4 linked regions of the Homo sapiens genome follow. The protein of the gene in region 1 interacts with the protein of each later gene in a pairwise test. Each region holds a gene or a part of one and is shown in the gene's direction. Other genes may lie near its edges. The genes, in order: FNBP4, ITSN1, HSCB and ITSN2.

Region 1 (3,272 bases):
AAAGAGGCTGAGGCGGGAGAGTCGCTTGAACCTGGGAGGCTGAGGTTGCAGTGAGCTGAGATCGCACCACTGCATTCCAGCCTGGGTGACAAAAGTGAAACTTTGTCTTAAAAAAAAAAAAGAAAAACGGGGATAAAAATTGGTCTTATCAATATCTAATATATTTGTCAGATACTCTCCCTAGGGGCTTAGGATTTAGCAGTACATCAAACAGACAAAAAAAAAAAAAACCCTCTGCTTTTGTAGAACCTTTCTTCTGGCAGGGGGTGGCTTGGGAGTAGATAAGGGAAAAATAAATCTATGAGAAATATTTTTTTTTCCTTTTTTTTTTTTTTTTTTTTTTTTTTTTTTTTTTTTTTTTTTTTTTGAGTCAGAGACATCCGCCACCACCCCCAGCTAATATGGCAGTTTGCTTTGTTGGTCTTTCCAGCTTTATTTTTTAGCTTTTTTTTTTTTTTTAATCATTTGATAGGAATGCTGCATCTATTTAAAATTTGAAAATGGGAACGCTGTAATTCTGAGGAGACGAGATAAAGGCAATATTTTGAATTGCATAGGGTAGGGAGGTTAAAGGAAATTTATATGACCTGATTTTATAAAATACCACATTTACAAATACCACCTTTTGAAACGGAGTCTCAAGAAAAGGGGCAAAAAATCTGTATGTTTATTATAGACGATTTAGACAATGAAGGTAAGCGAAAAGAAAAAATATTATATCATTATACCTTCTCTTAGAACTAACTGTATCATTGATTTTTTTTGGCAGGGGGAGGGGAGACAGAGTCTCTGTCACCCAGGCTGGTGTGCAGTGGCATGCTCTCAGCTCACTGCAACCTCTGCCTCCCAGTTCAAGCACTTCTCATGCCTCAGTCTCCTGAGTAGCTGGGGCGACAGGCATGTGCACCACCATGCCAGGCTAATTTTTGTATTTTTTATATTTTTAGTAGAGGTGGGTTTTTGTCATGTTGGCCAGGCTGGTCTCAAACTCCTGGCCTCAAGTGATCCACCCACCTTGGCCTCCCAAAGTGCTGAGATTACAGGTGTGACCCACCATGCCTCGCCCCATTGATGTTTTATTTTATTTATTTATTTATTTTTATTTATTTATTTATTTATTTTTGAGATGGAGTCTTGCTCTGTCGCCCAGGCTGAAGTGCAGAGTAGCTGGGACTACAGGCGCCCACCACCACGCCAGGCTTATGTTTTGTATTTTTAGTAGAGACGGGGTTTCACCGTGTTAGCTAGGATGGTCTCGATCACCTGACCTCGTGATCCTCCCGCCTCGGCCTCCCAAAGTGATTACAGGCATGAGCCATCGTGCCCAGCCGATATTTTTAAAAATCTGTTTGCTTTTTTTCATATTTAATTATGGCTATTTATTTATTTGAGACAGAGTCTCACTGTGTTGCCCAGGCTGCAGTGCAATGGTGCAATCTTGGCTCACTGCAAACTCTGACTCCCGGGTTGAAGCGATTCTCCTGCCTCAGCCTCCCAAGCAGCTGGGACTACAGTCGCCCACCGCCGCCGCCACCGCCCCCGGCTAATATGGCAGTTTGCTTTGTTGCTCTTTCCAGCTTTATTTTTTAGCTTTTTTTTTTTTTTTTTAAATCACTTGGGAGGAACACTGCATCTATTTAAAATTTGAAAACGGGAACACTGTAATTCTGAGACGCGATAAAGGCAATATTTTGAATTACATAGGATAGGGAGGTTAAAGGAAGTTTATATGACATAATTTTATAAAATACCGCATTTACAAAGCTTTATAGATTTTATTTATTTATTTATTTATTTATTTATTTTTTTGAGACGGAGTCTCCCTCTGTAGCCCAGGCTGGAGTGCAGTGGTGATCTCGGCTCACTGCAAGATCCGCCTCCCAGGTTCATGCCATTCTCCTATCTCAACCTTCCGAGTAGCTGAGACTACAGGCGCCCGCCACCACGTCTGGCTAATTTTTTGTATTTTTAGTAGAGACAGGGTTTCACCATGTTAGCCAGGATGGTCTCGATCTCCTGACCTTGTGATCCGCCCGCCTCAGCCTCCCAAAGTGCTGGGATTACAGGCTTGAGCCACCGCGCCTGGCCTGCTTTATAGATTTTTAACCAAGCCTTTTTGTTTATAATTGGTAAGAAATTTATGGCAAGAACTTAGAATGGTATTTACTTTCTTTTTTAAAGTGTGCATATTCTTTAGAACTGGGAAAAGGATCCTGACCTCCATTGTAGAGGACGCTTATCCTTATTTTATGTTTTCTATTCCTTTTGACCTTTAACCTTTGTTACAGGCAAAGAAGAGTAAGACCAAAATGCCATCTTTGGTAAAAAAGTGGCAGAGTATCCAGCGTGAGTTAGATGAAGAGGACAATTCTAGTTCCAGTGAAGAGGATCGGGAATCAACTGCACAGAAGCGAATTGAAGAGTGGAAACAGCAGCAGCTGGTTAGGTAAAAGAAAAGGAAACACAGATGAGATGGGGTTTTGGAGTAGGTTGAGACCTACTATGAGATGGAGTAGGTTGTGGTTGTTATAGATGCATTAGAATAGACATATTCTTAAAATCACAGCTTGTAAATTTATCTAAAGGTTTCTAATTTATAAACATGTTTAATTCCTTATAGAAATTATGGGCTAGCCTTTTTTCAAAATCAGAAACAACAGAGTTGTAATACTTTGTCCAGTTGATTGTTGGTCTTAGGCAAAGGCCTGTCTTAACTCTCAGTACATCATTTACTATCTAGATCCAGTGGACCCTTTTATACACACACACACACACACACACACACACACACACACACATACACACATAACATATTAACTTATTTTACAAATAATTTATAGAATTAGACCCTTTTATACACACACACATTATTGTACAAATGATTTACAGAATTAGAATAAAGTTTTTCCCCTGTCCCTATATTTCAGTCAAGCAGGGTAGAATACAGAGCTGCCTTCTCAATTGCACTTATTCTAGAACAGAAGTTAATGAGAGAGCACACCACACTAGGAACTAAATGAACCTCTTCTAGGTAAGAAAATCCTTCACTACCTTGCTTGACTAGAATAAAAGGATAGGGAGAACTGGCTTCAAGTAATTGCACCTCAGCCTCCCAGAGTGTTGGGAATACAAGTGTGAGCCACCACACTCAGGTCAGAAATATTTTTTATGATGAAAGCACATGTTGGGCTGGGCACGGTGGCTCACGCCTGTAATCCCAGCACTTTGGGAGGCCAAGGCGGGTGGATCACGAGGTCAGGAATTCGAGACCA
Region 2 (3,598 bases), on another chromosome or scaffold:
GGGCTTAGTGACTCGTGCCTATATTCCCAGCTTTTCTAGAGGCTGAGGTGGGAGGATCTGGTTCGCTTGAGCCCAGGAGATGGAGGCTGCAGTGAGCCATGATTGCCCTACTGCATTCTAGCCTGGGCGACAGAGAGAGCGAGCCTGTGTCCAAAAAGTAAGTAAGTAAATAAATACATAAAAATAAATACGGGTTTCTGTCACCTCGCTTCAGAATCAGACAGCTAGAGGTGGGGCCCTGGAATTGGTGTTGTTAATGCATTCTCCAGGAATTTCTCCTGCATAGGGAAGTTGGAAACCACTGGCTTCCTTCTCTCTGAGCATCTCCTGAGACTAGCTCCTGAAGTGGATAGAAAGTTTTTCAAGTAGCAGATTAAGTTTTATCCCTTAGGCTGCTAATAAAAAACAATTGACTGTGATTGCGTAATTTTACCTGTCGTACACCTTTCAGAAGGCAGAGGCTTTGGTTCACCCCTCTACCTCCAGGGCCTAAAACAGTGCCTGGAGGAACTCAATTAAACATTTGTTGAGTGAATACGTGAATTACATTGCAGCGAGGCCAATCTTTTAAAAGTTACTTGTCAAATTAATCTATCAGTTAGTGGCATATTAAAGCCCAGCATATTACAAAAAAATTTTTTTTAGTAGTCACTGATTTTATAAATTAGGAGCCACAAGCACTATACCCCAGTGACTTCTGTAAGTTTGGTTAGTTTAGAAAGGAGAGAGCCTTTCCCAGGCGTAGTGTGCTCAAGGTGATTAGCCAGAAAGAAGATTCAGAACAAAGCATTTGCTTAGAGAGTCAAAATGTAAATTTAAGTCACAGTGTAGTGGTAAATCATATATCAAACTTATATTTGGTATATTGTCTTATATCAAAATATCATTTTATAAACCATAAGTCCAACATACTGCTATAAAAATTGGTTTCTAGCAAATAGAGAAAATTGTTATGTTTTCCAATTTCACTTTTCATACTAATAAAATTTGACCTTTACACCTTCTTTTCAAGAGTTCACCACAGGGCACCATAGATATTATGTAGTTAAGAGCTCAAACTTTGGAGAATATTGTGTTTGACCACACATAGTCAGGGAGTTTGATCTAACCTCTCAATGCCTCATTTCTCAGCTGAACATGGAAATAGTAATAATAAAGTTCACATACTTCTAAGTGCTTACCTAAGTTTTTGAGACACATCCACTTAATAAATGGTAGTTACAGTGATGATAAAGAATTGGGGTGTATAAAAATACCTAAAACTCAAAAGCTAACCCATTTAATTATTGTACTACTGGACTTTTATGATAGTAAGTAGAAATCTGTTGCTTAAAAAAGAAGTTTCTTTGGTGGTGTGCGTCTATAGTCCCAGCTACTTCGGAGGCTGAGGTGGGAGAATCACTTGAACCCAGGAGATCAAGGCTGCAGTGAGCTATGATTGTGCCACTGCACTCTAGCCTGGGTGACAGAGCAAGGCCCTGTCTCAAAAAAAAAAGAAAAAAAAAAGTTTATTGCTAACTCCTTGGTACTATGTATAATTTTTTTAATTGAATGACTAGACTAAACATTGAAAGTATTTAATAAGCTATCAAATATGTATTAATATAAGTTTTGAAAATAAATACTAAATCTCCTGATCTCTTTTAGGTTAAAATATAGTTTATGATGAGCAACTAATATTCTTTGTATTTAAAAAGATAATTGTTTTATGGTAGAAAAATTGAAATACAGAAAAGTATAAAGTAGAAAACTATGAAATACCCGTAAGTCTACTACCTGCATACATATTTCTTCAAATCCTTTTGTGTGTGTGCATATGGCTATTCATATACAATTTCTGGTAACAAAAATGGGATCTTGCTATACATATGGTTGTAACCTGCTTTTTTTTTGCTTAACATCTTGTCATGAGTGTCTTTTCCTATATATATATTGCATTATAACAATTTTAGTAACCAAATAATATTCCGTTTTATGGATCTATGGTAGTTTTTTTTTTAATTTTTATTTTTTCAGACGGAGTCTCAGTCTGTTACCCAGGCTGGTGTATAGTGGCTCAATCTTGGCTCACTGCAACCTACGCTTCCCAGGTTCAAATGAATCTCTTGCCTTAGCCTCCTGATTAACTGGGATTACACATGCCTGCCACCATGCCTGGCTAATGTTTGTATTTTTAGTGGAGATGGGGTTTCGTCATGTTGGCCAGGCTGGTCTCATGCTCCTAACCTCAGGTGATCCACCTGCCTCAGCCTCCCAAAGTGCTGGGATCACAGGCGTGAGCCACCACACCCAGTCATGGATCTCTGGTGGTTTAGCCAATTTATTTTTATTAGACATTAGTTTGTTTATTTTTCCTCCACGGTTACTTATAACCCTGCAGTGACTGTCCTTCTACATATGTCTCTGAATGTACTTGTGAGATTATTTTCATTAGGATAAATTTCTACAAATGGAATTTGCAGGATCAAAGCCTATGCTAAATTTTAGGATTTTTTAAATCCGTATTTCCAATTTGTCATTTAGAAAGATTGTATCATTTTATACTCTTACCATGGTATATCAGACTTCCAGTCTCCCAGCCCCTTGTACCTTCCCCCATTTTATGGAATGACTTAACCAGTGACAAACCTAGTGAATTTTTGCTTTTAGGAAGAAGAATGGACTGTTAGTATAATGTGTTTAGTAGTGTGATATGGAAACTCAGAAATCTTGTGCATGGGTAATAGTGATAGCTAATGTCGATTAAGTTCTTTTGCAGCATCTTATATACATTAACTCACTTCACAAAAAACTCTCATCTTACAGATGCCTTGGAAACTAGGGTACCAGCAATTAGAGAGCCAGCAAGTGTCTGAGCAGATTTTTACTGTAGAGTCCAAAACTCTTAGCCTGTTTCCTAGACATGTTTTATAGGCATTTGGGTACTTTTTATGTTCTCGATTGCTGTTGTGGAGTAACTAAGAGGTTCTCTGACATGTACTAATATATAAACTGGGTGGGGCACAAATTTGAATCCCTTTCACTGAAGAGTTGGTCACATAAGTTAGCTCAGAAATTAGCTTTGGGACCGGTGCTGTGGGTCACTCCTGTAATCCCAATACTTGAGAGGCCAAGGTGGGAGCATTACTTGAGCCCAGGAGTTCCAGACTGGCCAGGGCAACATAGCAAGACCCTACAAAAAATTTTTTAAAAAGTAGCCCAGTGAGGTGATGCCCACCTGTAGTCCTAGCTACTAGGGAGGCTGAGGTGGGAGGACTGTTTGTACCCAGAAGTTGGAGGCTGCAGATGCCACAGCACTCCAGACTGGGCAACATAGTGAGATCTTGTCAAAAAAGAAAGGGGAGGGCAGGGCAAGAGAGAGAGAAAAGAAAGGAGAGAAAGAGAAAGAGAAGGAAGGAGAAAGAAAGAGGAGAGAGAGAAAAATTAGCCTCATCAACTGTCCAGCATTCATCCTTAAAGTAGTCTTGTTATCCTTTACTCTGTAGTGGTTTTCCTAAAGTACCCCTGCATGAAAAACAGGATTAGAGTGCTAGAGAAGACTAGTGAAATTTGAAAAGGCAGTTCACTTGTGATGTGGACTTGTCTTAGAAACGCAAGA
Region 3 (2,986 bases), on another chromosome or scaffold:
ACCTCATGATCCGCCCACCTCGGCCTCCCAAAGTGCTGGGATTACAGGCGTGAGCCACCGCGCCTGGCCCTAAAATTTTTTGAATACAAAAAAGATGTTAAATAGGCCGGGCGCGGTGGCTCACGCCTGTAATCCCAGCACTTTGGGAGGCCGAGGCGGGCGGATCACGAGGTCAGGAGATGGAGACCATCCTGGCTAACACGGTGAAACCCCGTCTCTACTAAAAATACAAAAAATTAGCCGGGCAAGGTGGCGGGCACCTGTAGTCCCAGCTACTCAGGAGGCTGAGGCAGGAGAATGGCGTGAACCGGGGAGGCAGAGTTTGCAGTGAGCCAAGATTGCGCCACTGCACTCCGGCCTGGGTGACAGAGCAAGACTCCATCTCAAAAAAATAAAATGTTAAATAAATTAAATTGAGAAATGAAATACGACCAAGGCCTTCCAAGTCCCTGGTTGACATTTTGCCATTACATCTCCCTTCCACAGTAACCACTCCTGAATTTTGTGTTACTCATTCCCTTGCTTTTCTTGATAGTTTTAACCATATATGTACATAATAGTATATTATTTAGTCTCACATATTTTTCTTTATATAAATAATACATATCCTTCTGTGACTTTTTTGCTTAATATTTTATTTTTGGAGTCATCTGGAATGATGCAAATGGTTATAACATATCTTCATTTTAGCACTCTTCACATTGTGTTTTACTTATCTAAGTCAGGTTTTCTCAACCTTGGCACTACGGATATTGTAAGCCAGATAATTCTTCGTTTGGGGGAGCTGTCCTGAGTACTATAAGATGATTAGCAGCATCCCTGGCCTGTACCCACCAGATGTCAGTACTACCTCCCAGCTGTGACAACCAAAAATATCTCCAGACATTGCCAGATGTCCCCATGGGGGCAAAATCATCCCCAGTTGAAAATCACTGGTCTGGCCAGGCATGGTGGCTCACACCTATAATCCCAGCACTTTGGGAGTCCAAGGCAGGCGGATCACTTGAGATCAGGAGTTTGAGAGCAGCCATGGCCAACATGGTGAAACCCTGCCTCTACTAAAAATGCAAAAATTGGCCAGGCATGGTGGCGCACACCCTGTAGTACCAGCTACTCTGGAGACTGAGGCATGAGTATTGGTTGAACCCGGGAGGTGGAGGTTGCAGTGAGCTGAGATCACGCCACTGTACTCCAGCCTGGGCAACAGAGTGAGGCTCCATCTCACAAAAAAAAAAAAAAAGGAAAATCACCGGTCTAAAGGTGTCTTTCTTGGGAACTATAAGCCCCCGGAGGGTACCTCTGTGCCTCAGCACCTGAACTGTAAGCCCCCTGAAGGCAGCTCTATGCCTCAGCACCTGGCATAGAGGAAGCATTCAGTGCTTTCATATCCTCAGTATACCACCACATGTTAGGGAGAAATTTTTAAAACACAACCACCCACCCTTTTTTTTTTTTTTTTAAAGAGACAGGGTCTCACCCTGTCGCCCAGGTTGAAGTACAGTGGCACAGTCATAGCTCAGTGCAACCTCAAACTCCTGGGCTCAAGGGATCCTCCCACCTCAGCCTCCCGAGTGGCCAGGACTACAGGCATGTGCCACCATGCCTGGCTAATTTTTTATTTTATTTTTTATTTTTTATTTTTTATTTTTGGTAAAGACAGGGTCTTGCTTTGTTGCCCAGGCTGGTCTTCAATTCCTGGGCTCAAGCCATCCTCCCGCCTCAGCCTCCCAAAATGCTGGGATAGCAGGTATGAGCTCCTGCATCTAGCTTCCACCACCCATTTATTACTTGGGACTGTCCTGAAGAGAATCAACTTCTCTAATTTATGTGAATCCTGTACACATGCTCTTACACAACTCTCGCCCCATTTGGTTTATCCCTGTGTCTCCTTAACAATCCAGATGTTCTCCCTCTTCGTTGCTCAGTCTTACTGAGGAATTGATGAGCCCTCCGGACCCCAGGGCTCCACTTATATATCGCTGCCCTAGTCATCAGAGTTGGTTTTATTCTTGCTTGAAATGAAGCCTGACTTCAGTGTCTCTGTCTATTTCAGATGACTTTGAAGAAGCCAAGGAAATTTTGACAAAGATGAGATACTTTTCAAATATAGAAGAAAAGATCAAGTTAAAGAAGATTCCCCTTTAATTGTGGATAGTTTAAAGTTTAAAAAATAAAGTTCTTGCTGGGCACAGTGGCTCACACCTGTAATCCCAGCACTTTGGGAGGCTGAGGTGGGTGGATGACAAGGTCAGGAGTTCAAGACCAGCTTGGCCAACATAGTGAAACCCCGTCTCTGCTGAAAATACAAAAATTAGCCGGGCATGGTGGCGCGTGCCTGTAATCCCAGCTACTTGGTAGGCCGAGGCAGGAGAATCGCTTAAACCCGTGAGGTGGAGGTTGCAGTGAGCAGAGATCACGCAACTGCACTCCAGCTTGGGCAACAGAGTGAGACTTAATCTTGAAAAATAAATAAATGAAAAATAAAATTCTTGTATATTTCTTTTCTGGCTTCTGGTAATTGGGAATAGATAAGCCTTTACCGTTTATATCATCTTAATTAAGCCTATGGCTCAAGCATTAGTGGATGGCAAAGTTTGTCATGTGGGAAGAAACACAGCCTAGTCAGAGCTTGGGTGGTCAGTTCTTCATCTGATACTTGATACAACATGACCCCAGTGTAGGCTAATGGTTGAAGAGGTGGAGATGGGGCCAATTTGAGGCCCTACAAAGAGGAATCCAAAAACTTCTCTGCAAAGGGCCTGGTAGTGAATATTTTCAACTTTGTGGACTATATCAAGGGTCCCCAACCTGTTAGGAACTGGACCCCACAGCAGGAGGTGAGTGGCAAGTGAGCGAGCAAGCAAGCATTACCGCCTGAGCTCCGTTTCCTGTCAGATCCGCTATGGCCTTAGATTCTCAAAGGAACATGAACCCTATTGTGAACTGCACATGTGAGGGTTCTAAGTTGCATGCTCCTTGTGAGAAT
Region 4 (3,598 bases), on another chromosome or scaffold:
CAAGTTAATTTTCATGTTAGAGATAATAAATATTAAATTCACTGTCACAGGTAGGGGATCCATGTGTTCTGGTTTTCTAGGGACAGTTCTGATTTATGCCTTTTGTCCTGGCATCTGGTCCAGTTAGTGTCTCCTTTTACAACTCCTAGTTGCGTGATGAATTATATGGTCTCCCTAGGTATAGCCAATCCCAAATACTATTCTTAGTTTCCTCTCTCTCTATATATATGTGAGTAATACAGAAAAAATTTTGAGCAGTTTTAAACTCACTTGAAATGGTTCGATTTGGGAGATAATTTAAAATTTTATGTAAGTTGAATTTTTTTAAAGGTTAATTAGCCAGCTAAATTTAGGGCCAAAAGTTGCAGACTTTGGGCTAATAAGTTCACGTATTCATCAGCGATAACCGGTTGGTATGTTTTCTGTTAATTTTGATCAGGCAATTTCTTATAATTATATGTGAGAAGCACTCATTTTGAATGGAACATTCAATTAGGTATGTCTATGTATCTGAAACATGTTCCTTCACTACAGATCTTAGAATATAGAATTCTAGAGCTGGTTATAGGGGTGTGTGCCTGTAGTTCTGGCTGCTTGGGAGGCTATGGGTAGGATTGCTTGAGTCCAGGAGTTTGAGGTTGTACTGTGCTATGATCGCACCTGTGAATAGCCACTTCATTCTAGTCGGGGCAACATAGTGAGACCCCCATCTCAAACAAACAACAGACTCCACAAAATTATTTCACTATTTTAGTGAATTCTAAAGATAAATACTAAATCATTGTGTGACCATATTTATAAGTATTCTGCAGTTAATAAATGAATAAAAGTCATCACTTTGTTCCTTTTAAGAACTCGTCCTTGAATTCATAGGAATGTTACTTACAAGAAAAGTAAAATATGTGACACACTTTCTTGCAAATAATGCATATGCATAAATGGATCTCATAAAGTATCTACTACTTAGAACCTTTTTGTTTGGGGGGAGTATGTGAGAGAGAGAGAGAAGAAGAATGTGTGTGTGTGTGTGTGTGTGTGTATTAGTCAAGTAACTTAGTAGCACTGTATTATCCTTTCACAAAAACCTCATTTGATCTGGTAATGTATTCTTTCCTTGAGGAGACTCATATTCAATTGGAAAAGGCTGCTTAGTTTTATTCATGATGAGAGAGGAGAATATTTAACTCTTTGCTAGGTGTTTTCTTAGTTCATACAGATCAGAGTATTAGTATTAAGAGCAGCAGTTTACCTCCCTCACTGCTGGGTCAAAGTAGTGAGTTTTTTAAGGATAATTCATCTGTGTGTTTTGGTAAACATAGAGTCTGCCCACTGTACTGTAAACTTGTTTTTTGCATGTGTTTTATAATTGATTTTCTAGCACTGGAAAAAATGTTTTCTTTTGACTTTAGGAATGGGAAGCATGCCCAATCTGTCCATTCCTCAGCCATTGCCTCCAGCTGCACCTATAACATCATTGTCTTCTGCGACTTCAGGGACCAACCTTCCTCCCTTAATGATGCCCACTCCCCTAGTGCCTTCTGTTAGCACATCATCATTACCAAATGGAACCGCCAGTCTCATTCAGCCTTTACCCATTCCTTATTCTTCTTCAAGTGAGTACTTTGTTTCTAAAGAGTCATTATTTCATGTAAAGAAAGAAACTATTTGTGTTTGAACAGATACAAATTTCTTTCATACTTTTCCTTCTTTTTCTTTTTTAGCATTGCCTCATGGGTCATCTTATAGTCTGATGATGGGAGGATTTGGAGGTGCTAGTATACAGAAAGCGCAGTCTCTGATTGATTTAGGATCTAGTAGGTATGAATAGCTAACTCTGACAACTTTTTATGCTTTCAGTAAGAAGTCTTTATTTAACAAATGATTTTTTTAAAGCTTTGAGCTTACCTAAGTTTTACTTTATAATGGCCAAGTACAAATACTTAAGGTAAATTTACTACTTACAACTCACATAAAATAAATTTTTTATTTTTAGAATTATTAAGTGTCTGTGGCATTTTACTTTTGAAAAAATAATTCATGTAAACTAAAAATATTCTATATTTTAATTTTTTCTTTGCCTAAAGCTGTGTACTTTTCCTTTAAAAAATGTGTATATTTCCCAAGATGTCTCATACTCATTGTACATTGTTAATTTCTTTCTTGAGCAGATTCTACTAATTGGATATCTTTTAAATTTTACAAAGCACAAATGCATCAGTATTCATTACATTAATCACCCTTCATATAAATCACTATTATACTCTTCAGGGTAGTGTACGGAGAGTGTTAGATTTGACCCAGAAGAACAACATTCATATCCTAGCTTGAACACTCACTGATTCTGTGGCCTTGTTTTTTCTTAACATCGCTGAGCCATAGTTTACCCATCTAAAAGATGGGGACTGTAGTATTTTTTAAGTTTGTTGGGAGGATTAGAAATATTTGTAAAGGCCTTAGTACAATATAAGGTCTGGCACAGAGCAGGTTCTTTATATGCGGTAGTCTCATGGAGTTCTATACTTCTTATGGTCTTTGCTTTACTAAGAATAGTGATAATTGCTTAAAATTTAAAAAAATGTAAAATGCAAAAGCAGTCACCATTGGCCAGGCACAGTGGCTCACGCCTGTAATCCCAGCACTTTGGGAGGCTGAGGTGGGCGGATTGCCTGAGCTCAGGAGTTCGAGACCAGCCTGGGGCAACATGGTGAAACCCTGTCTCTACTAAAAATGCGCACAAAAAAATTAGCCGGGCGTGGTGGCATGTGACTGTAGTCCCAGCTACTTGAGAGGCTGAGGCAGGAGAATTGCTTGAACCCGGGAGGTGGAGGTTGCAGTGATCCAGGATTGTGCCACTGCACTCCAGGCTGGCAACAGAGCGAGACTCTGTCTCCTCCCCAGAAAAAGAGAAAAGGCAGTCACCATTATAGTATGTAACAGCGATCCTCAACCTTTTTGGTACCAGGGACTGGTTTCATAGAAGACAGTTTTTTCACAGACTTGAAGCAATGGTTTTAGGATGAAACTGTTACATCTCAGATCATCAGGCATTAGATTCTCAAAGGGAGCATCCAACCTAGGTCCCTCACATGTGCCATTCACAATAGGGTTTGCACTCTTATGAGAATCTAATGCCACTGCTCACTGGACAGGAGCTGGAGCTCAGGTAGTAGTGCTCACTCACCTGCCACTCACCGAGCCCCGCTGTCCAGCCCGGTTCCTAACAGGTCGGTGGCCCGGGGGTTCAGGACCCCTGGTATATAAGATTCTTAATGCCTTGGTCTTATAAAATTTAATTAAATATATTTTATTTAGTAACATAAAAATTTTAAATAAATTTTTTTATAGCTCAACTTCCTCGACTGCTTCACTCTCAGGGAACTCACCCAAGACTGGGACCTCAGAGTGGGCAGTTCCTCAGCCTACAAGATTAAAATATCGGCAAAAATTTAATACTCTTGACAAAAGTATGAGTGGATATCTCTCAGGTAAGCAGCATACAGTGCTGAAGAGCATGAAAAAGGGTCTTTTATGTGGACTTCCACTGAAGAACTGTCATTTGAATTTGTATTGTGTAGCTCATCTGACATTTTAACATCCA

The links.
Region 2: the proteins of FNBP4 (region 1) and ITSN1 interact in a two-hybrid assay, tested with the Homo sapiens proteins (one large-scale study listed by BioGRID).
Region 3: the proteins of FNBP4 (region 1) and HSCB interact in a two-hybrid assay, tested with the Homo sapiens proteins (one large-scale study listed by IntAct).
Region 4: the proteins of FNBP4 (region 1) and ITSN2 interact in a two-hybrid assay, tested with the Homo sapiens proteins (one large-scale study listed by BioGRID).

What each region holds. Positions count from the first base shown.
Region 1 is NC_000011.10:47,719,103-47,722,374, reverse strand, and holds part of FNBP4 (formin-binding protein 4), read left to right. Parts: intron 1-2,288; coding exon 2,289-2,446; intron 2,447-3,272.
Region 2 is NC_000021.9:33,645,501-33,649,098, forward strand, and holds part of ITSN1 (intersectin-1), read left to right. Parts: intron 1-3,598. UniProt on the Homo sapiens protein: Adapter protein that provides a link between the endocytic membrane traffic and the actin assembly machinery. Acts as a guanine nucleotide exchange factor (GEF) for CDC42, and thereby stimulates actin nucleation mediated by WASL and the ARP2/3 complex.
Region 3 is NC_000022.11:28,755,025-28,758,010, forward strand, and holds the end of HSCB (iron-sulfur cluster co-chaperone protein HscB isoform 1 precursor), read left to right. Parts: intron 1-2,053; coding exon 2,054-2,145; 3' UTR 2,146-2,486; downstream 2,487-2,986.
Region 4 is NC_000002.12:24,308,504-24,312,101, reverse strand, and holds part of ITSN2 (intersectin-2), read left to right. Parts: intron 1-1,409; coding exon 1,410-1,613; intron 1,614-1,721; coding exon 1,722-1,818; intron 1,819-3,345; coding exon 3,346-3,485; intron 3,486-3,598.